Homo sapiens: one gene and its partners. The protein of the gene in region 1 purifies or fractionates together with the protein of each later gene. This does not show direct contact. Each region holds a gene or a part of one and is shown in the gene's direction. Other genes may lie near its edges. The genes, in order: CILK1, MAST4, NUP188, MNAT1, IFT172 and TPP2.

Evidence for each region.
Region 2: the proteins of CILK1 (region 1) and MAST4 purify together in Homo sapiens (affinity purification with mass spectrometry; one large-scale study listed by BioGRID and IntAct). This does not show direct contact.
Region 3: the proteins of CILK1 (region 1) and NUP188 purify together in Homo sapiens (affinity purification with mass spectrometry; one large-scale study listed by BioGRID and IntAct). This does not show direct contact.
Region 4: the proteins of CILK1 (region 1) and MNAT1 purify together in Homo sapiens (affinity purification with western blotting, with the first as the bait; one study listed by BioGRID). This does not show direct contact.
Region 5: the proteins of CILK1 (region 1) and IFT172 purify together in Homo sapiens (affinity purification with mass spectrometry, with the first as the bait; one large-scale study listed by BioGRID). This does not show direct contact.
Region 6: the proteins of CILK1 (region 1) and TPP2 purify together in Homo sapiens (affinity purification with mass spectrometry; one large-scale study listed by BioGRID and IntAct). This does not show direct contact.

The regions. Positions count from the first base shown.
Region 1 is NC_000006.12:53,055,325-53,058,824, reverse strand, and holds part of CILK1 (serine/threonine-protein kinase ICK), read left to right. Parts: intron 1-3,500.
Region 2 is NC_000005.10:67,141,893-67,145,392, forward strand, and holds part of MAST4 (microtubule-associated serine/threonine-protein kinase 4), read left to right. Parts: intron 1-222; coding exon 223-345; intron 346-528; coding exon 529-641; intron 642-2,776; coding exon 2,777-2,904; intron 2,905-3,251; coding exon 3,252-3,487; intron 3,488-3,500.
Region 3 is NC_000009.12:128,954,199-128,957,698, forward strand, and holds part of NUP188 (nucleoporin NUP188), read left to right. Parts: intron 1-2,151; coding exon 2,152-2,236; intron 2,237-2,753; coding exon 2,754-2,834; intron 2,835-3,500. UniProt on the Homo sapiens protein: Component of the nuclear pore complex (NPC), a complex required for the trafficking across the nuclear envelope. Required for proper protein transport into the nucleus.
Region 4 is NC_000014.9:60,793,761-60,797,260, forward strand, and holds part of MNAT1 (CDK-activating kinase assembly factor MAT1), read left to right. Parts: intron 1-2,456; coding exon 2,457-2,609; intron 2,610-3,500.
Region 5 is NC_000002.12:27,483,244-27,486,743, reverse strand, and holds part of IFT172 (intraflagellar transport protein 172 homolog), read left to right. Parts: intron 1-501; exon of another isoform or gene 502-585; intron 586-1,240; coding exon 1,241-1,384; intron 1,385-1,613; coding exon 1,614-1,726; intron 1,727-2,477; coding exon 2,478-2,517; intron 2,518-2,577; exon of another isoform or gene 2,578-2,716; intron 2,717-2,806; coding exon 2,807-2,872; intron 2,873-3,084; coding exon 3,085-3,164; intron 3,165-3,367; coding exon 3,368-3,455; intron 3,456-3,500. UniProt on the Homo sapiens protein: Required for the maintenance and formation of cilia. Plays an indirect role in hedgehog (Hh) signaling, cilia being required for all activity of the hedgehog pathway.
Region 6 is NC_000013.11:102,634,986-102,638,485, forward strand, and holds part of TPP2 (tripeptidyl-peptidase 2), read left to right. Parts: intron 1-601; coding exon 602-717; intron 718-1,238; coding exon 1,239-1,407; intron 1,408-2,096; coding exon 2,097-2,254; intron 2,255-3,253; coding exon 3,254-3,330; intron 3,331-3,500. UniProt on the Homo sapiens protein: Cytosolic tripeptidyl-peptidase that releases N-terminal tripeptides from polypeptides and is a component of the proteolytic cascade acting downstream of the 26S proteasome in the ubiquitin-proteasome pathway.

The DNA.
Region 1 (3,500 bases):
AATGCATTTTTCTGCTTGTGGGATCTATGTGAGTGTGTGTATTTGCCTGGTGGTTCCTTGGGAGAATTCTGGATATAATGACCTCTCTGTGTATGTTGATCTGAAAGCCTGTGAATAGTATCTCATTTAACTGTTGTCTTTCACCTGTGGTCTTTGATGACTGTGGCTTTCTGAGAAGGGCCTATGTTTAGAGTATTAGAACTCTCCTATCTGTGAACCTCAGTGTTTATGGTTGATGTGGTTGAATCAGGGAGAATGCGCAAACAGAGGTGTGTGTGTGCCGGATGACTTATACACGTTTTGGGATTACAGTGTAATTGTGTCTTAGTTTGTGGTTGTGCTTACCTTTGAAATACAGTTTTAACTTCCTTATAAAAGCACATGTGTTCTAGAAAATTACCTAGTAAAAAGAATTTGGTGAAACAAATCATTTTCTGGGGCAAATTGCATTAAAATGCTAAGGAAATGTTGTGGCAGGAAGAAAATCAGAGATGCCTTTGATTGCAGCCAAAGAAGTAAAAGCAGCAGCTCAGGCCTACCTCAAGGTGGTAACCAAGGTTGATATGGGCATCTTCATTCAATCTGTCTGCTCCTAGTTAACTGCTGTCCAATATTAGGAAAAACTACTACTCAACAGGTTTTAGGGAAACACTCAACCCAAACAGAAGGCTTCTATTCCTGATTTTCTTCCAAGGAAACTGAACTATCTTTGCACATTAAGTACCTGACTCTCTGTGCTTTGAAAGTTGAAGTCTTCCTGGGTAGGAAGAGTGTCTTGTCGTGGGACTTACCTGAGCAGGCTGAAATCAAATCCAACATATGTTGACATGTGAAGTCATGTTTGAGTTTGAGGATAGCACATCTTCAAACATCTGCTCCCCCCTTTTTTTAAACTATATGGGCTCAGGATTAGCAAAATATTCATATGCTTTTTACCAAGGAGCACGTGGGGAACATTTGATACATCTTTAGTTGGCTATAAAACATGTATTATACTCACACATTTCAAAATATTCTACTCTGAAGATAGCAAGTATTCTGTTCTTCTTAGTTGGATCTCATCTGTAGAGTGAGAATGTCAAGTGATCATTAAGGTCCTTTACAGAAAAAAAAAATTCTTAACTCTATTGTCTGAAGTTTGTTCAACATTAGGCTTTGAACATAGTTCCTAATGAATTTAGCATTCAAATCTATGTTAATTAGCATTCAGTTATATTTTATCTTTAAATAAGCTCATCATGGCTGCTATAAAAGATAATGCCTCTGAACCAAAAGATAAAGTATTATAAGTGTGATGTCCAACTATATTTGACAATATCATGAAAGTAACTATCTGCGTGAACTTGTAGTTCCTAGCAGATGATTGTCATCCTAACTCACTTTTTTTGAAATGAAAGGGCCACAATAGTGCCTTGCTTTTCATTTGGTGCTTTTCCCACCATGTCAAGAACCCTTAGTAGCCACTTAATAAATGTATAACGATGGCCCAGAGCTTATGAGAACCACACGTTTTTTTAGGAGAGATCAGTGTGAGTTATTTTTTACCTTTCTATAGGTGAAGCATGACCTGTGATAAAGTATTGATAACATGTGACTGCTCTTTTGACTACCATAAAAGATAATGCCTGAGAACCGGAAAGGAAAGTACTATTGTATAATGCCCAAATACGTATTTGGCAATATCATGAAAGTTACTATCTGCATGAACTTGTGGTTCCCAAAAGATAGTTATTAATGGTTTTGCCCTCTTGGACATTGCCTTTGCTTTGAAAGAGAATTTACTAGAGAATGATTTAACTAAGACAAAGGGGAGTAAGAAAAATGTAAGATATACATGCCTTCATGTGATCTTAGCTGTTGAAAAGCAAGTTTTTTCCTAAATTAGTGTAAAAGTTTTTAGAAGGAGTCATAATTTTGGTACCCTAGTCCCAGTACAGTTGTCCAGTTTGCAAAGAAGTGGGGCGTGACGGGATGACAGTGAGGGTGGACGTGGTAGTATAGGAAAATCATCTATGGTCAGGATTGCCTTTTAAAGCTCCATAAGTTGTTCATTCATTAGTTAATTCATTGAACATGTCTTTATTGTGAGTCCGTACTTGTGCCAACTATGCCAGTTCTCTGGGAACTGAGTACTGGGAATACAGTTGTGAATATTGCAACGTTTCTGACCTCACAGAGCTTATATTCTAAGGTTAAACACAGCTTGTATGTAGCCCTGTAACCTAGGGGTAAGTGAGGGCTCTATGGAGAGTACTAAAGTGCTTCTGCTTATTTGGGGGATTTCCTCATCTTCAGGGCTTGACAAACTATGGCTTGTGTGCCAGTCCTTCCTGCTGCCTGTTTTTGTAAATAAATTTGTACTGGAACACAGCCATGCCCATGTATTTACATATTGTCTTTGACTGCTTTCATGCTACAATGGCAGAGTGGAGTTGTGACGGAGATGGAGAGCCTGCAAAGCCTATCCTGTTTACTGACCCTTCACAGAAAAAACGTGCTTATCCCTGCCCTATTTTATTTTTACATTAAGCCTTTACTTCCTTTAATTCATTTTGATTTTTTGTATACATGCTAGCAAAGCATCTTACACTGAGATCAGCTCCTTAGTCAAATGTGTTGTAATAGCATATAAATACTGATAACATGTGGCTGTCCTTGTAACTACCGTAAAAGATAATGCGTTAGAACCAGAAAGGTAAAGTATTATTGTGTAACGTCCAGCTACTTATTTGCCAGTATCATGAAAGTTACTATCTACATGAACTTGTGATATGCTCTTAGTCACTCCCCTATCTTCACTATCCCTTATCTTGCCCACCCCTGAAACACAGGCAAGCAGGACTATTGCCACCCTCGGCAGTTTTCATTAAGCTGGGGACTCTCGTTCTAGCTCATCTACAGTTTCACACATGGCAGGGTAAAGGTTTGTTTTTCTGGCTGTTTTTTTATTTTTTATTTTTTTTAACATTTCGCCTTTACTTCAGTTCTTTACAGTCCACCAAAGCCAACTATGTGTCCTAGTTTAAAAATCATCTGCAAGTGATTGAAGAACTTTTTTAAGGTTCAAGGCGTGAGCACCTTTTATATTGTAAGAGAAGCGACAGGGAGTTATGGAAGCTTCTCATGGGATTAAGGACCTAGTGCAGGACGAGTTCTTTTTTCAGAAGCTGGGATTGAAAGAGGAGAGGGATGGTAAAGGTATGAAGAAGTTTCTGGGGCACAGAAGAAGGCACATCATGTAACGGATTATCTTCTCTTGTTAACATCCAGTTGATGCAATAGCTGAATGCATCTTTAATTCACTCCTCTGTCAAGGTAAAGACAAAGCAAGATCCATGTAAAGAAGGTCCTTTTGGCTTTGTAACTGCTATTCCTTATGCAGAAAAAAAGCAGTAGTCCAAGAGGCAAAATGCTTAAAAGGTTTGCTTGCTAAAATGTACAGAGGCAGAAGAATTAGGTCCAGGAGAAAAACATAAACCCGGATATACTATTTCTAGTAC
Region 2 (3,500 bases), on another chromosome or scaffold:
AAACAGTGCCATAGCAACTGCTGTTAGCAACATCAAATCTCCTACTGATAAATTATCAGAAAAACTTGTGGGGCTTTGGTTGTAGAATGAAAAAGTATGATTTTCATGTCTGTATTTCTTTGCTGATATGTTCTCAAAATTGTTGTTAAAAACTGATGTTTGCCTTTGCTTAGTGGGGATAGTTTAACACTTTCCTCTCTGTCTCTACCTGCCCCCTTCCAGGTGGTGCATATGAAGTCAAACAGCATCGATTCTTCCGTTCTTTAGACTGGAACAGTTTGCTGAGACAGAAGGCAGAATTTATTCCCCAACTGGAATCTGAGGATGACACAAGTTATTTTGATAGTATGTGCTTTATCTGACATAAAACATTGTTTGGCCTTTACTCGATAAATAATTATCTTTGCTTTTGAACCTTTTCATATCTCTGAGTTCTTAAACATAATGTTGATCCAGAAAATCATAATTAAAATATCTAAATGTTGAAAATCTGAGTAATTGGACCTGTTCCCAAACATTTCACTGCAGCTCGGTCTGAGAAGTATCATCATATGGAAACGGAGGAAGAAGATGACACAAATGATGAAGACTTTAATGTGGAAATAAGGCAGTTTTCTTCATGTTCACACAGGTTTTCAAAAGTAAGTGAAATGTGGCATAAACATACAGAGTCTCTCTGGGAGGATCTCCCGCTGGCCAGATAGTATCCCCGAACAGCTGGACACTTACCGTTTTCCAGGGTTTGAGGTCTCCTATGCTTAAACTTCCTTTTGTTGAAGAAAAGTGACCTCCTCAACTTATAGTCTGTCCCTATCCCCTAGGCCTTTAGACTGCCATTTTACCTTCTCTCTTTCCTGTGAGACAACAGAGATTCAGATAGCTGAGACCTTGGGCTTACCTGAGCTCTGATCCCCTTCAGGAACCCCGGCACCAATATATTTCTCTCTCCACAAATTAAGATATTGTTTTCTTAGAGGCATAGCCTTGCACCCACAGTCTTGTTTTTGGAGTGTGTGACTGCTACTTATATGATGACCTTGCCTTGAACGTCTCTCACCTGGCTCAATGCCAGGCTGCAGAGGTATCACTCATTGCTTTCAACTCAGGATGAAGAGCGCGAGCTTCACTGTGTACAGAGTCATCTCCGAGGGATTACACAGAGTACAACAAAAGGAGAAGGCTCAGTCCTTGACATAAGCAAAGATACCTGCGGACAGTTGACTGTAGGATTGTAAAGTCTCATAACTGCCAGGCATAGTGGCTCACGCCTCTAATCTCAGCACTTAGAGAGGCAGAGGCAAGAAGATAGCGTAAGCCCAGCAGTTCAAGACCAGCCCGGGCAATATAGTGAGACCCCGTTCTCCACAAAAAGGAAAAAAAAAGCCAAAAAAAAAAAAAAGTCTTGTAACCAATAAACAGAAATTATAAGCCATATTGAAAAGGCAGTAGGAAGCCAAGCTAGAATCATTTAGATAATTGATGCTTGAGAAAGATGCCTTTTTACCAGTACAGTAAAAGTTAAAAAAAACAATTAATCAAAACAAAGAAAACTGATAGTACTGAGACAGAACAAGGCCCTAGGAAAAACGGAAATCAACCTGAGGGCACCCTACCTCCCTTTTGCTATTTTCAGTAGCTATATATTTTCTGTTGCCATGGCATTTTGCATGATTATTGTTTAGCTTTTCTATAACATTTAGTGATTTTAAAGTGCTCCGTAGCTTTTTCTAAATGATTACCTAGATGCACCTGCAAATTGGCCAGCACTACCCTCCTGTGTATGGGAATGGCATCGAGGTAAGGATTTCCCTGGAGAAGGTGGTAGCCAGTCTGTCCTAGAGCCAGGACAGAAGCTTTGCTAAGTGTGGACTCAGACCAGGACTGTTCTCTGGGCCATCAAAGACAACAATGCCAACCCCTAAACACTGCTTCCTTCTTTGCCTTGGTGGGTATTTCATTTTCCCACCATCTCCTTTTCTGTAGCCACTTTCCTGCTATTCCTAGTAGATTATAGGAGGCCTGAGGACCATTCCCATGAGAGCAGCAAGTGTCTGAGCAGGGCAGTAGGGAGCGCTTCCTGCCCTAGGCTCTTAGACCCCCATTTTACCTTCTCTCTTATGAGACAACAGAGATTCACAGATAGCTGAGACCTTGGGCTTACCTGAGCTCCGATCCCCTTCAGGAACCCCGGCACCAACATAGGAAACTGCCTGTCTATAGATGTGATTTGTAAGCGAAACAAATACCTCTGGCTCTTATAACGGAATATGTACTGCATCCTTGCCACACCACCACCCAGTCTTGAAACAGATAATTTATTCTTCTGTTTGCACTCAATTCCAATTCATTTTTCTTCTTCCCACCCCTGACTGGTGGCCATTAAATCTGTTTCTCTGTTATTTTCTTTTTCCAGTTGACTTCATGGTTAAAAAGTAATCAAGATGTGCATTGATCCCAAGGCCTAGAAACTCCACTGCATCTGTGGATTTTGTTTGCAGATACAAAGTCCGCAACAAGATATGATGAGAGGATGATGAATTCATAGCTCCCTATTCGTATATATGTACACACACACACACACACACACACACACACTCACTCACCCTGACCCTTCCTCTCTGGATTCTGGTTAACAACACTGGAAAGTACTTTCTGAATACACAATATTAGTTCAGAATTTAGTTATCCTCTCAGGTTTTTCTCCCAAGACTTGGAGTGTTTTTCTGACAAACTCTTTTTAGTAGATATTAATAAGCACCAATTATTTGCCTTCCAGGTTTTCAGCAGTATAGATCGAATCACTCAGAATTCAGCAGAAGAGAAGGAAGACTCTGTGGACAAAACCAAAAGCACCACCTTGCCATCCACAGAAACACTGAGCTGGAGTTCAGAATATTCTGAAATGTATGTGAAATGCCTCTTAAGTAATATAAGCAGTAGCTACTAGAGCAGAGTTTCTTAAACTTTAGTGAGCATCAGAATACCTGGGGGGCTTGTTAAAACACAGATCTCCCACTTCCAGAGTTTCTCATCCAGTAGATCTAGGGTAGGGCCTGAAAATGTGCATTTCTGACAAGTATCTAGATTATGCAGATGTTGCTGCTGTGGGTACCACACATTAAGAACCATTGCACTAGACATCTCTTGGTTAGGCTTATCCAAGTCCGATTTTCACCTGGTTTCTTCCAAAATTCACCTTTAACACAGTTTTCTAGTATGTATATATGACTTTGTTTTTGCTTTTAATTAAGGCAACAGCTATCAACATCCAACTCTTCAGATACTGAAAGCAACAGACATAAACTCAGTTCTGGCCTACTTCCCAAACTGGCTATTTCAACAGAGGGAGAGCAAGATGAAGCTGCCTCCTGCCCTGGAGACCCCCATGAGGAGCCAGGAAAGCCAGCCCTTCCTCCTGAAGAGTGTGCCCAGGAGGAGCCTGAGGTCACCACCCCAGCCAGCACCATCAGCAGCTCCACCCTGTCAGGTAAGCCCCGGGC
Region 3 (3,500 bases), on another chromosome or scaffold:
CTTAGCTGTGACAATGTCTTAGTCTTTTTTTTTTGAGATGGAGTCTCGCTTTGTGGCCCAGGCTGGAGTGCAGTGGCACGATCTCGGCTCACTGCAAGCTCTGCCTCCCGGGTTCACGCCATTCTCCTGCCTCAGCCTCCCGAGTAGCTGGGACTACAGGCGCCCGCTGTGACAATGTCTTAGTCTTTTTTTTTTTTTTTTTTTGAGATGGAGTCTCGCTCTGTGGCCCAGGCTGGAGTGCAGTGGCACGATCTCGGCTCACTGCAAGCTCTGCCTCCCGGGTTCACGCCATTCTCCTGCCTCAGCCTCCCGAGTAGCAGGGACTACAGGCGCCCGCCACCACGCCTGGCTAATTTTTTGTATTTTTAGTAGAGACAGGGTTTCACTGTGTTCGCCAGGATGGTCTCAATCTCCTGACCTCATGATCCGCCCGCCTCGGCCTCCCAAAGTGCTGGGATTACAGGCGTGAGCCACCGCGGCCGGTGACAATGTCGACAATGTCTTAGTCTTACCTTGATTTTCATGACCTTGAACAAGTTTGAGGACTGGTCAGTTATTTTGTAGTATGCCCCCAATTTGGGTTTGTCTGATGTTTTCCTTATTATTAGACTGGGGTTGTGAGTTTTTGGGAAAAATACACAGAGGTGAGGTGCTCTTCTTTTTTTTTTTTTTGAGATGGAGTTTCGCTCTTGTTGCCCATGCTCGCGTGCAATGGTGCGATTTCAGCTCACTGCAACCTTTGCCTCCTGGGTTCAAGCAATTCTGTCTCAGCCTCCCGAGTAGCTGGGACTACAGGTGCATGCCACCATGCCTGGCTAATTTTTGTATTTTTAGTAGAGACAGGGTTTCACCATATTGGTCAGGCTGGTCTTGAACTCCTGACCTCAGGTGATCCGCCCGCCTCAGCCTCCCAAAGTGCTGGGATTACAGGCGTGAGCCACCACGCCTGGCCAAGCTACCCTTCTTACCACATCATAGCAGAGAGTACATGCTGTCCACATGAAATCACTGGTAATGTTAATCTTGGTCACTCAGTTAAGGAGGCATTTGCCAAGTTTCTCCTCTGTAAAGTTACTTTTTTCTCTTTTCCTATTTTATTTTTTGGAAGTGAGTACTAAATATAGCCATGTCCAGCTAATTTTTTTCACTTTTGGTGGAGATGAGGGTCTCACTTTGTTGTCTAGGCTGGTCTCAAACTCCTGGCCTCAAGCTACACTCCTGCCTTGGCCTCCCAAAGTGCTGGGATTACAGGCATGAGCCATTGTTCTGGCCCCTCCCTATCCTATTTATTTATTCATTAGTTTATATCAGTATAGACTCAAATATATTTATTTTATTTATCTTATACTTTGTTTATACCTTGTTTCAGCTTTGGCTATTGGGCATTCTTTTAGGTTGGCCTCTGTCCTTTGGGCGTGTCCTTCCTTTTTTCTTTTTTTCTTTTCTTTTTTTTCTATTATGTCATCTCCTACCGAAAGGACTTTGGTTTCTTAAGCCCTTTTGTACTTCTTTTCACTATAAGATGCTTCAAGATTTTCTTGTATTTTCCTTGCCCTGACTCTAGAATCAACCAATTCTCCAAGGAATCCTGTTATTAGAGAATGGTATTATAAAGCAGGATCTGGGTGCTGCATGTACCTCCTGCTGTTGGAGTATTATAAATTCTAGGCCTTCTCGGTGGACAGAGCTATTACAGATAATATATTAATATATGTATGTATGCCACAGACCTGGTTTTAAATTTTAGCAACTGTTTATGAGCTGTGGGATTTTTGGTAAGTTATTTACCCTAAGTGCTGGCAATTCCATTTGTAAAAGGAGAATAGTAATATTTGCCTTTTAGGGCAGTAGTAAGGATCAAAAATAATGTAACTTAATGTGTTTACAAATAACATTGTTATAACTGTAATTTAACCACTTTTTTTTTGTTTTGTTTTGTTAGGCATAACCAGTTCTGCGTTATGAAGTTTGTAGAGGTGAATGGGTGTGTGTGTGTGTGTGTGTGTGTGTGTGCGTGTGTGTGTTTGTGTGTGTGTTTATAGGCATCTGAAGGGCAGAAAATAGTCTGTAGGAAAAATATTTTAAAATATTTTTATTTTAAACTCAGTGGGCTATTGAGAATGAAGAAATGATTCACTGTTCTTTTTGTAGTCCAAGTTCAGCTGAAAAAGTGAAAGCTAATAAAGATGTAGCTTCACCATTGAAGGAACTGGGTTTAAGAATCAGCAAGTTTTTGGTGAGTAAAAATTAGCACTCGCTCAATTTATTACTTGCAGTGTGGATGTGCGTGGTTATATTGCTAGTGATAGTGAAAATTCAGTTTCTTTTTGTTTTGGGGATTAAATTGTTTTATAAATACCCAGGTTGCAACTCTTCTCCCTAAAAGTTACAAGTCAAAGTTGCCTGATCCATTCACTGCATATCATAGGGTTTTCTTCACCAGACATGTGGTGGTCTTTAAGGTGACTAAGTTTGTCATTTTGGAAGCTCACATCATGCCTACTGCTGTATTAATGTGCTTAGTGAATAAGCATCGTTGTTTCTGGCATGTACATTTAATTGTAATAAAAATTGTATGTCAGTGACTGGCTCTTGTCTTCTATTAGAGTCAGAATTGTTATGTTTTATGAATCTTTGAGAAGCATTTTTGTTTATTCAAGTCCTGTGTTCATTGTAGAAGACAAATCTTTAAATTCTCTGCATCCTGTGTGCGATTTCTGAGCTGTTCCTTACTTAAAATCTCTGTGTTTCAGGGTCTTGATGAAGAACAGAGTGTGCAGTTACTCCAGTGTTACCTGCAAGAGGACTACAGGGGTACTCGGGACTCAGTAAAGGTTTGTGGTTTATGTCAGCTCCTTTCTTCTGCCTTTATCCTTTTTCCCTGTTGGTTTTAGATAATGTAGGATTTTGGCACCAATTCTTTTATCGGTGGTAGGTGATCAGGTACCGTCATCTTCAGGGAAGACCTACTAAAGGCTTTAAAAAAAACATGACCTGGGTGCAATGGCTTGTGCCTGTACTCCCAGCTTCTTGGGAGGCTGAGGCAGGAGGATCACTTGAGTCCAGGAGTTTGAGGCTGCAGTGAACTGTGATCGCACTACTGCACTCCAGCCTAGGCAAAAGAGTGAGACCCTATCTCTTTAAAAAGTAAAGAATATATATGCATATAAGCTGAGATCTGTCTTCATACTTGGAGGAGTGGAGAGGTCAAAGACTGACATGTTAATCATAGAATCTTGGGCTATTAGAGGTGATAAGGATTTGGTAGAGTTTCTTTTTTTTTTGAGATGGAGTTTCGCTCTGTCTCCCAGGCTGGAGTGCAATGGCGTGATCTTGGCTCACTGGAAGCTCTGTCTCCCGGGTTCACGCCATTCTCCTGCCTCAGCCTCCCAAGTAGCTGGGACTATAGGCGCCTGCCACCACGCCCGGCTAATTTTTTGTGTTTTTAGTAGAGACAGGATTTCACCGTGTTAGCCAGGATGGTCTCAATCTCCTGACCT
Region 4 (3,500 bases), on another chromosome or scaffold:
TAGCATATTACCCGTGGGAAGTGAGATACAGAACACAATGAAGTAGAACTTTGAGTTATTTTTCTATATAATTCTATATTTTATAAGCTTTAAAGAAAAAATATTCTTTTCACAGTTAAAATTAGAAATGGAAAATGTTACGTAGGAAAATAAACTGCAATAAAAAATTTTAATACTATTTAAATTATTATGACAAGGCAGATTATAAAAAGTGGAGATGTACAACTGATTTTGGAAACAATATATTATGTCTAATATACAATATAACGTTTAGAAATATTAATGTTCTATATTACCTTGCTGACTAAACTATTGATTGAGTCTAATCTCCAAGACCTTGAGATATATTAATGTTATTTGTGGCTCTGTAATTTTGACTATTTTGGATAGATGCTTACTTATAAATATCTTTAGTTAGTATAGTTGTAAAGTTTGCCTGTTTTCACCTTCCATGGATGGGTTTAATTTCCTCTAACCACAAAGAATAGTGAAAATGCACCACTCTGAAACTTCCTAAGTCCAGAGTGGTTTATCTGGGGTTTAGTTGATCTTGCTAATGACACTATGATCTTTGGAATTTTTCCCTGTTATTTTTTAGTGACACTATTAAGATAGAAATATAGGCCAGGAGTGGTGGCTCATGCCTATAATCCCAGAACCTTGGGAGGTCAAGGCAGGAGGATCGCTTGAGCCCAGGAGTTCGAGACCAGCCTGAGCAACATGGGGAGTCCCAGTCTCTACAAAAAAATAAAAAAATTAGCAGAGCGTGACAGTGTGTGCTTGTTATCCCAGCTACTGAGGAGCCTGATGTAGGACGATTGCCTGAATCTGGGAGGGCAAGGCTGCAGAGAGCTGTGACAACTTCACTGCATTCTCAAAAAAAAAAAAAAAAAAAAAAAAATATATATATATATATATAAAATAGGTATATATATACATATGTGTGTATATATATGTCTGTGTGTGTATGTATATATTTAAAGATCAATGTTAGTATTTTACTAATAACCTTAAAAATTCTTATTTTTCTTATTACTTTTCTTATTTAGCTTATTCTGTAAGTTAAATACACACTTGGAAGAAATCAACTCTTCCCTATTCATTAGAATTTCTCTTTTTCCCTTTGTCTTGTATTCATTTTTTTGTTTTGTGAAGTTTACTTAGTGAGTACTTAGCGTTAGGCACTGCGGATAGAGAACAAGATAGGCAACATTCTGTCTTTATGAAATATACTGTACTTCCTTGTCTAGGAGACAGAACACAGAAATAAATAAGATGATGTCAGATATTGCCAACAAAAGGAGTGATTAGGACTGTGTGGTCCTAACACATATGGAATTGGGCAAGATTACACCTGGAGGACTACAAATGTTTAAATATTTATCAAAACATTCGAATATTTAAAAGTTATAAATCAAGCCACATCCTTGGCCCAGCCTGATTTCCTACACAGCATGTTGAGTTGCCAGCAGCCTATACCCTCAAGACTCAGAGGCTAAAGGAACTGCTCTCTCCTCCCATCCATCTTTGTAACCTGCCTGACTGAGTGGTAGTATGGATCTGTTGGGGTAGGGCAGGGATGATTGGGGTGGTACCTAGACCCATCTAAAACAGTATATTAACAGATCCCACCAAGTCCCCAGGAATCTGGTTATAGAGAGGTTTGCCTCTCCAGTTCATTGTTTTTTCAACTCAAGTCTTCTAGGAAGTTGTAAGCCCTTCTTAATGTTGCACTACCAGAAAAGGGGATGCAGGTATCTGGGAAACCTGGCTTGCCTGGGAATTCGGTTTGCTTTATTTGGGGCAACGAACTTTAACCGAATAAAGCTTTTATAAGCAGCCACTCTTTCTGGGATTTCTCATGGCAGAAGTTGTGTTCATTTTCTCCCTCACACATACTGGAGCGCTCAAAGTTCTTTATCCTCTGGCCAGTGAGGCCTCATTCAGCTAGCACCTCTTTCTTGTAATTGTCATTTGCTCAGTTGATTACTGAACTTTCAAAAGACATTCTTACAAGGAAAGGAAGAAAAAAACATCTGTTTTAGTGCTTGGGGTATATAGGGCTCTCTAAAGAGCAGGCCCCTGGCAGAGGCTTCTCTTGCCCAGGTCTATGGATGATATTGGGACTGGGGATGGAGGTGACCATACAGTAGCCTTTTACATGCTCTTTGACTTCTCCCTATCCTGCTCTTCTTCCTAGTCTCTCACTCAATTTGTTTTAATTTATAAATTTGTTTGATCTGTAAAACTAAACTGGTATCACTTGGGATACCTATATCTGAAAAGTAAGCTCCAAATGAAAAAGAACATTTTCCAGAAAGTTTTTTGGTAAGATTTTAAATAGAAGTGACTAGTTTTCAAGTCTCACTCTCCTTATCCCATAGGGGCAAACTATTCAGATGTGTTGTAGATTTGAACATTGGCTTAAATGTTATGTTTTATTTCTGTCCTTACAGCTGTGAAAGTTGTGTAGATTTACTGTTTGTGAGAGGAGCTGGAAACTGCCCTGAGTGTGGTACTCCACTCAGAAAGAGCAACTTCAGGGTACAACTCTTTGAAGATCCCACTGTTGACAAGGAGGTTGAGATCAGGAAAAAAGTGCTAAAGATGTAAGTATTCCTGCTCGAATGATTCAGTCAACAAAGAGGACTTTAACAATTATGTCAGTAATTGATTATTATTTGCTCATAAATGTGGACAGATTAGCAAGTAAATAACTATAAATTCATTTAAGTTCTTAGAGAACTGAGTAATATTATTTATCTTTGTTAAAGAAGAGCCTCTTGATTGATGGCTTCATTATTCATTTGTATTTATTCTTTGATTAATAAACATGTATTGAGTACCTACTATGTATTGAGTACCTACTATGTGTAAACACTACTATGTGTAAACATGTTATGCATGTTAAGCAGTAGTTATGAAGTGATGAGTAAAACAGCTATGAACTCTGTCCTCATGAGACTTACCATACAGTAGCATAGGATAGCAAAAAGACAAAAAAACAAGTAAACCAAAACAAATGTTATTTATTATAGATTGAGAATAGTGCTATATAGTTAGTGACTCAGTGTTGCTGTGGTCAATGATGTCAGGTGTGGGCAGAGGAGGTAACATTAAGTTGAAGTTTGAAGGCTATTAGAGAAAATTACGTGTTAGCTATAGTTTATTTTGGTATGTGTATTTTTGTGTATATAGATATACACACATGGGCATAGTAAATATATGTGTGTATATATGTATATATATACCTATATATTATTAATCTGTCTTTTTCATTTACAATTTAGGCTTTACTCTTTACTCTTTGTTAATAGTTTTGGGTTTCCTTTTATCTGTTATTATGAGAAATAATTGATATGTTTATTTTTATTTTTGGTGGTATACATTTCAACCCAGGTAACCAGTGTTTTAGCAGCATCTTTCTAGGTACATAACCAATAATACTTTATCAATCCGCCTAGCGGCTCTTTTATTGTTTGTATAACTTCTGCAAGGTA
Region 5 (3,500 bases), on another chromosome or scaffold:
CCAGAATTGGGCAAAGCGATAAAGCAGGAGGATCAGCAAAGATTGATGAGGAGCCCTCAGGCCTTCTAACCTAATATAATGAAGAGTTAGAGGATCATAGTGATGGTGGTGTGGCTATTTTCTGGTTTGAGGATTTGCAGGAAAATAGACTTTTTACTTCTGACTTTGGAGATAGGTGAGTTTGGAGTGTAAAGTGTCAATGTTTGAAGCCAGAACTCTAGTGTCCAAATAATTAAACAATTGGGGCAGAAGAAAAGCAGAATAAAATGTTTTGTTTTCAAGGAAGGAAACCCTTAGTAGCAGAGCTAGTCCCTTAGGACCAGAGCTAGTGTTGGAAGGGTCAGATCTGGTCAGAATAATTCACCTGGAGATAACTTCTAACTTGGGTTTCTCTGAAGTGGGTAGTTAAGAAGAAAAGAAAGTGGGATTATTCGTCCTGAGTCTCAACTCGTACTCGCCCATCCTGAACTCTCACTGTCTCTCCCTTTCCTTTCAAATAAGCCCAAACTCCTTTGCCTGGCTTCAAAGACTTCCTGAGCTGGCCTGTTTTTCCTGCCTTACCCCGTCTATTCTACTATTTATAAGGTATAATAGTTTCAAATAAACTAAATTACTGTTTCTTGTCCAGAATTTGCCTTTGCTCATTGCCATTCCTCCCATCTCAGATAACTTCCTACTCAACTGCATTCATTCTTCAAAGCTTAATTTTGATAATTTAAGCATAAAATTCTCTCAGGCTTCTCCAAACTATTGTAGTACTTTATACATACTTTAATAGGACTTTTCTATTTTGCACCATCTTATTAGACGTGGAGGCAGGATCTATGGTTTGCTTTTTGTCTCTCTCTCAGCCCCTGGCCAAGTGCCTTGATCAATAAGGTGCTAAAAAAATATTAATTGAATGAATGGCTAATGACCAAAACTTACCAGACTAATTGAATTTATTTCAGTAGCAGACCTGGAAACGAGGAGGCCGTTGCAGGGATTCATTGATACAGTTGACTTAGCACCCTGCCTCTTAGTGCATTTGCATATGAGTCTCTAGAAGCCTGTTGTTCTCACAGTCCAGGATCTGAAGGCCTTGGAGACCAGCATGGGCCACAGGCATCTCTTTGTTTTGAGGATAGAACCGTGACAGGAAGAAAATTGACCAGTATTACACTAGAATTAATGAAGCTAGAAATGCTTTTGGCATTCTAGACCAGCACATGGGTTTGTTTTTACCCCTTTGCCTCTACAGGATGGAGCTGCAAAGGTGACCTGCATGGCTTGGTCCCAGAACAATGCCAAATTTGCTGTCTGCACAGTGGACCGAGTGGTCTTGCTGTATGATGAACATGGAGAACGGAGAGATAAATTCTCCACCAAACCAGCTGACATGAAGGTAAACAGTGTATTCATGTGTACCTTATTTAACCTATTGATGGGGTCTCACAACTTGAAAGACGTAGTCTGCCTTCTAGCCATCAGCATAGGAAATGGCATACCCCACCTTTTTCTCAGTATAAATCCTCAAGCTCCCTTAGGAGCACACATATGCCTTTTTTTCTCTTTTCTCTTTCATGTGTACTCATTACTTCTTTTTCTTTCTTTTTTTTTTTTTAAACTCTTAGTATGGCAGGAAGAGCTATATGGTGAAGGGCATGGCTTTTTCTCCTGATTCCACTAAAATTGCCATAGGACAGACTGACAACATCATCTATGTCTACAAGATTGGAGAAGATTGGTGAGGATAGAGACTGGGAGATGGGATGGCCCAGGAAAGAAGGGGAAGGCAAGAGAAATGCCTCACTGGGGAGGGGAAATACAGGGGATGAGAAGCCAAGCTTGGCCATTGAAGGCAGAGACTTTCTGGAGTCTGTTTTTGCTTTTCTGCCTTCACCTGTCCCACGTGTTCTTCAATCCCATCCCTGGAGGAAACAGTCCAAGGTCAACAGGAGGCCCTGTGAGATCCTGGAAGCCCAGAGTGATGTCACATCTTTGTTATTGTTCTGAAGCTGCTTAGGCTCCCTCATATACCTCCTTTCAGGGCTCCTACAGAGTAGTCAGAAATACTACTGGGCCAGGGAAGAAATCTGCTCTTTCTTCTCTTCCCTCAGCATCATTTTTGGCAATTTGTTTATGGAAGTGGTATTTATTTATTTATTTATTTTGAGATAGAGTCTCACTCTGTCACCCAGGCTGGAGTGCAGTGGCGCGATTGTGGCTCACTGCAAGCTCCTCCTCCCAGGTTCACGCAATTCTCCTGCCTCAGCCTCCCGAGTAGCTGGGACTACAGGCGCCCACCACCACACCCGGCTAATTTTTTGTATTTTTAGTAGAGACGGGGTTTCACTGTGTTAGCCAGGATGGTCTCGATCTCCTGACCTCATGATCCTCCCGCCTCGGCCTCCCAAAGTGCTGGGATTACAGGCATGAGCCACCACGCCCGGCCTGGAAGTGGTTTTTAATATGTTTCCCCTTCTTTTGTTTGGCAGGGGTGACAAGAAAGTCATCTGCAACAAGTTCATCCAGACGGTAAAGTTCAGACCAGTCCCTGGAACCTTAGGATGAACAAACATATATCAGTATATCTACTTATAAATACAGCCAGGAGTTGCATTTCTAACATCTGAATGTGACTTTTCCTACTGCAAGGATGGTGCTTCATGGCTGTTCATGGTCATCTGCTGTCTTCCTTAGAGCCCTGCTGTGTCCTTCCCTATAGGAGATTGAGGTGGTGGTGTGTGGTGGGGTGTTGAAGTTGTTATAAAAGTGCTGGCCCACACAGATGGGGTTATCCTTTTCATTGTTTCCTTCCACGCAGAGTGCTGTCACTTGTCTGCAATGGCCGGCAGAATACATCATTGTCTTTGGACTGGCTGAAGGGAAGGTAAAAGAGGGAAGGGAAACACAAGAGAGGGGGTGGTAGGGATAATGGTTCTGGAGAGAGGAATATGGTTCATCCTCTTTCTTAGGATCAAGTTGCGTACTGGGGAGAATGCATAGGGACCAGTTTTGTGGGACAGTTTTTCCTTTTTTTCTTAGGGCCTAGTTAAATATAAAATAGCCTAACCATACTTGTATCAATTTTTCCATTTTCAGGTTCGTTTAGCAAACACCAAAACTAATAAATCATCTACCATCTATGGGACAGAGTCTTACGTGGTGTCCCTGACAACAAAGTGAGTAAAGAGGAGTAGTATCACTAGAGTCTGGAAGTGTTAGGAAAATGCTGTGGGGAAGTCTGGACTGCAAGACCATAGTATGAAAGGCAGGAGAACTGGTAGCAGGAAGCACAGACAAGGTTGTGTTTGACAGAGAAAGGGGCTTTCTTGGTGAGATAAAATAGTCTCTTCCTGTATTTCTCTCCTTTCTCCTTTTTTAGTTGCTCTGGGAAAGGAATTCTCTCTGGTCATGCAGATGGTACCATCGTTAGGTATTTCTTTGATGATGAAGGCTCTGGAGAGTCACAGGTATGAATAAAGAATGTTGTGGGAGGCTTGGATTGCTTGAGTCCA
Region 6 (3,500 bases), on another chromosome or scaffold:
TGTGTTTAATGAGCTCTGGAGAGGACAAGAATGATACAGCACTCATCTTATGAATTGGTGGCCTCCATATTCTTCCCATAAAACAGTAATTCCCAACCTGGCTGTACCCTAGAATCATCTGAGAGTTGTTTAATAAATAACAATCTCTGGGACAGTCCTCAGAGATTCTGATTTAATTGGTCTGTCATGAGACCTCAGCATCTTTTTTGCTTGAGTTCCCCTGGGGTTTATAACATACAGTTGGGTTGAACACCACAGCCAACAGCCATCTTGTTTAACCCAGCAGTGTTTGAAAGAAAATGTCATTCACATGCTTTTAGATATCTGCTTTGTACGTTTATATTACGCCACAAAGCCCACACCAGTCTCTCTGCCCACCACATAATGAGAACACAGTGATTTTTGTGGAATGAAGCCTTCATGTAATGCAAGCAGTTTGAGTCAGACTGTTTAGTTCAGGTCTTCAAAAAAGATTTTAAAATGAGTGTTAGAACACAAGACATTAACACCAGAGGGTCTACAGGTGATCGATCATACTGGTGGGCGGCTAAGGTTTCAGATAGTGAGTGCTACACTACTTGTTTTTGTTTCTTAATTTTAGGTCTGAAAGCTAATAACATTGACTACACAGTTCATTCAGTCAGAAGAGCTCTAGAAAACACTGCAGTGAAGGCTGACAATATAGAAGTATTTGCTCAAGGACATGGTATTATTCAGGTATTGTTGCCTATATGAAAAATGGGTTGTAAAGCATCATTGAGATAATATCTTAGATATTATTGGGTAATATTTTGTTTTATAACAGTGATTCAGTATATCTGAATTATGGATTATATGGCCATAGAACTACAAGCAAAAAGGATACACAAACAAATTTTGTAGTTAAGACAAATCTGTTGCACTAAGATCAAGAAATGTAATAGATGGAGGCCATGTAGAGGTTAGAAATTCAAAGAAATCGAGGTCAAAAACTGGCCAATCATAACGGCATAGGGATTAGTTCCTAAATTTGGTCACTTGAGAATAACAGTGTGAATAGAGTGGAGTGGAAGATGTGACTGGTGTTGTTTCTAAAAATGTAGAATTGTCCTCTTAGTTGGGGTACTAGGTAGTTTTGAGAGGTGAATATAGACACTAACTTTTTGTTTTACAACTGAAATCAAATTGATTGGTAATTTGCAACAAAATATTTTTTGACCCAACCATTTATATCTTACCATGTATATTATTTTCACTAGGTTGATAAAGCCTATGACTACCTCGTTCAGAATACATCATTTGCTAATAAATTAGGTTTTACTGTTACTGTTGGAAATAACCGTGGCATCTACCTCCGAGATCCTGTTCAGGTGGCTGCACCTTCAGATCATGGCGTTGGCATTGAACCTGTATTTCCGGAGAACACAGGTCAGTAATAGGCTGGCAGTAAGCTGACGTATTCACATTTGCTGTTTGAATGAGTGGTATCATAATAAAGAATTGCTGTTTGGGCCAGTGTTGTGAAGAGAATACATGAATTGACAGTATGATTATTTTAAATCTTAGTCATAAGAGAAAATATTAGAGCAATTTGGGGTCCTTGTACAATGGCAATTTAGTTAGCATCTTAAACTACCAGGGAAAACAGTAGAATGAGCCTCAGTGACCCACAGCTTTATTAAATTGTGGATAATAAAATATCAAATTTCTTTTCCACTTTACCTACTTAGGTATAAGACAGAGCTTTCTGTTGAAGAATGAAAAGTAGAAGCAGTCTAGGAGAACTGCAGCTCGATTAGGTGTGAACAAAAATAATCATCGCTATTATCTGGCTGTCTTCATTTCAGTTGAATACTATGACCTGTGTGCAGTAATGAAAACATTCACTTAAACTCTTTATTTTAAGGTCATACCAGTGCTTGGTGAAAGTATAAATGAATCATGAGTAATCTAAATTGTAAGGAAGATTATTTGACTGTTTTATTTAAGCTGTGTTTTGGATGCATTTTACAGCCAACCAAACCAAGTCGCTAAATTTTTTTGGAAAGATGTAACATTTTTAAATGGAAAAAAGGAAAAAAATACTCATCTTTAATTTTTGGTCTTTTTCGTGCCAGAAAACTCTGAAAAAATATCCCTTCAGCTTCATTTAGCTCTGACTTCAAATTCATCTTGGGTTCAGTGTCCCAGCCATTTGGAACTCATGAATCAATGTAGACACATAAACATACGTGTGGATCCCAGGGGCTTAAGAGAAGGATTGCATTATACAGAGGTATTGATGTATCTTCATTTTTACTTTCTTCACTCTTTAAAATGTTTAAAAGGTTAAAAAAAAATCCAAAGTATATTTGCAATATATTGCTTTCTTGCTAAGAAATAACTAGACCTATCCATCTGCCAGGTTATTCAGTTCTTCTGGTGTGTCTATATTCATTTAAGCAGTGAGTTTCTAAAGAATCATATTTTGTCCTTGTATGAATAAGTAAAAGGAAAGAAGAGGTACAGCAGAACCTTTCAATTAGATCTCCCTCTAACTGGTGTTTTCTTTTGTCAGCTAAACAAAGCTGCAGTTGCTTGTTGTTGTTGTTGTTGTTGTTTTAAGAGACAGAGTCTTGCTCTGTTGCCCAGGCTGGAGTACAGTGGTGTGATCGTGGTTCGCTGCAGCCTTGAACTCTTGGGCTCAAGTGATATTCACACCTTAGCCTCCTGAGTAGCTAGGACTAGTGGCGTGCACCACCAAGCCTGGCTAAATTTTTTTATTTTTGTAGAGACAGGATCTCTCTATGTTGCCCAGTCTTGTCTTGAACTCTTGGCCTCAAGTGATCCTCCTGCCTTGGCCTCCCAGGGCTTTGGGATTACAGGTGTGAACCACCACACCCAGCCAGTTATACCTTTTAGTACTCAGATGAAGAAAGCATCTGTTAAACAAATAGTTGTAAACCAGGCATAGAATAGTATCACAACAGTATCTCCACATCTAAAGTTGTCTGTAGTACTAGTTTGAGCTAATTTTTCAGTTGGGAGTAATTAAAATGCACTTATTTTGTACCTGACGTCTCATTTTCCCATTTCAACTGGTCAAATGTTGCTATACATTTGTTTGGGCTGTTTGCTATTAATTATGTGACCTAGTGTCAGGAAATTGGTGTCAACCTCTGGTTAAGACCTTGATTAAAAGTAGATTGATTTATTCTGTCAGTAGTTTAGACCTTCCCCCGCTCTTTTAAACATTTGTTTATGGATATTGACACTTACCGATTCTTTTTTCAAGGTATGTGGCTATGATATAGCATCCCCTAACGCAGGTCCGCTCTTCAGAGTTCCGATCACTGCAGTTATAGCAGCAAAGTAAGTAACAGGTTACTCACAGCTTACTGGTACATCTAAGATTTTAATGACTATTCATGGAGTCTTGTGGACTTTTAATGATCACTAATACAGAACCAGGTAATGGGGATTTTGTCTTAGTTCTGCTCCCAGCTAGCATTTTTAGGTGTCATGTAGTCAGCCATACTGAC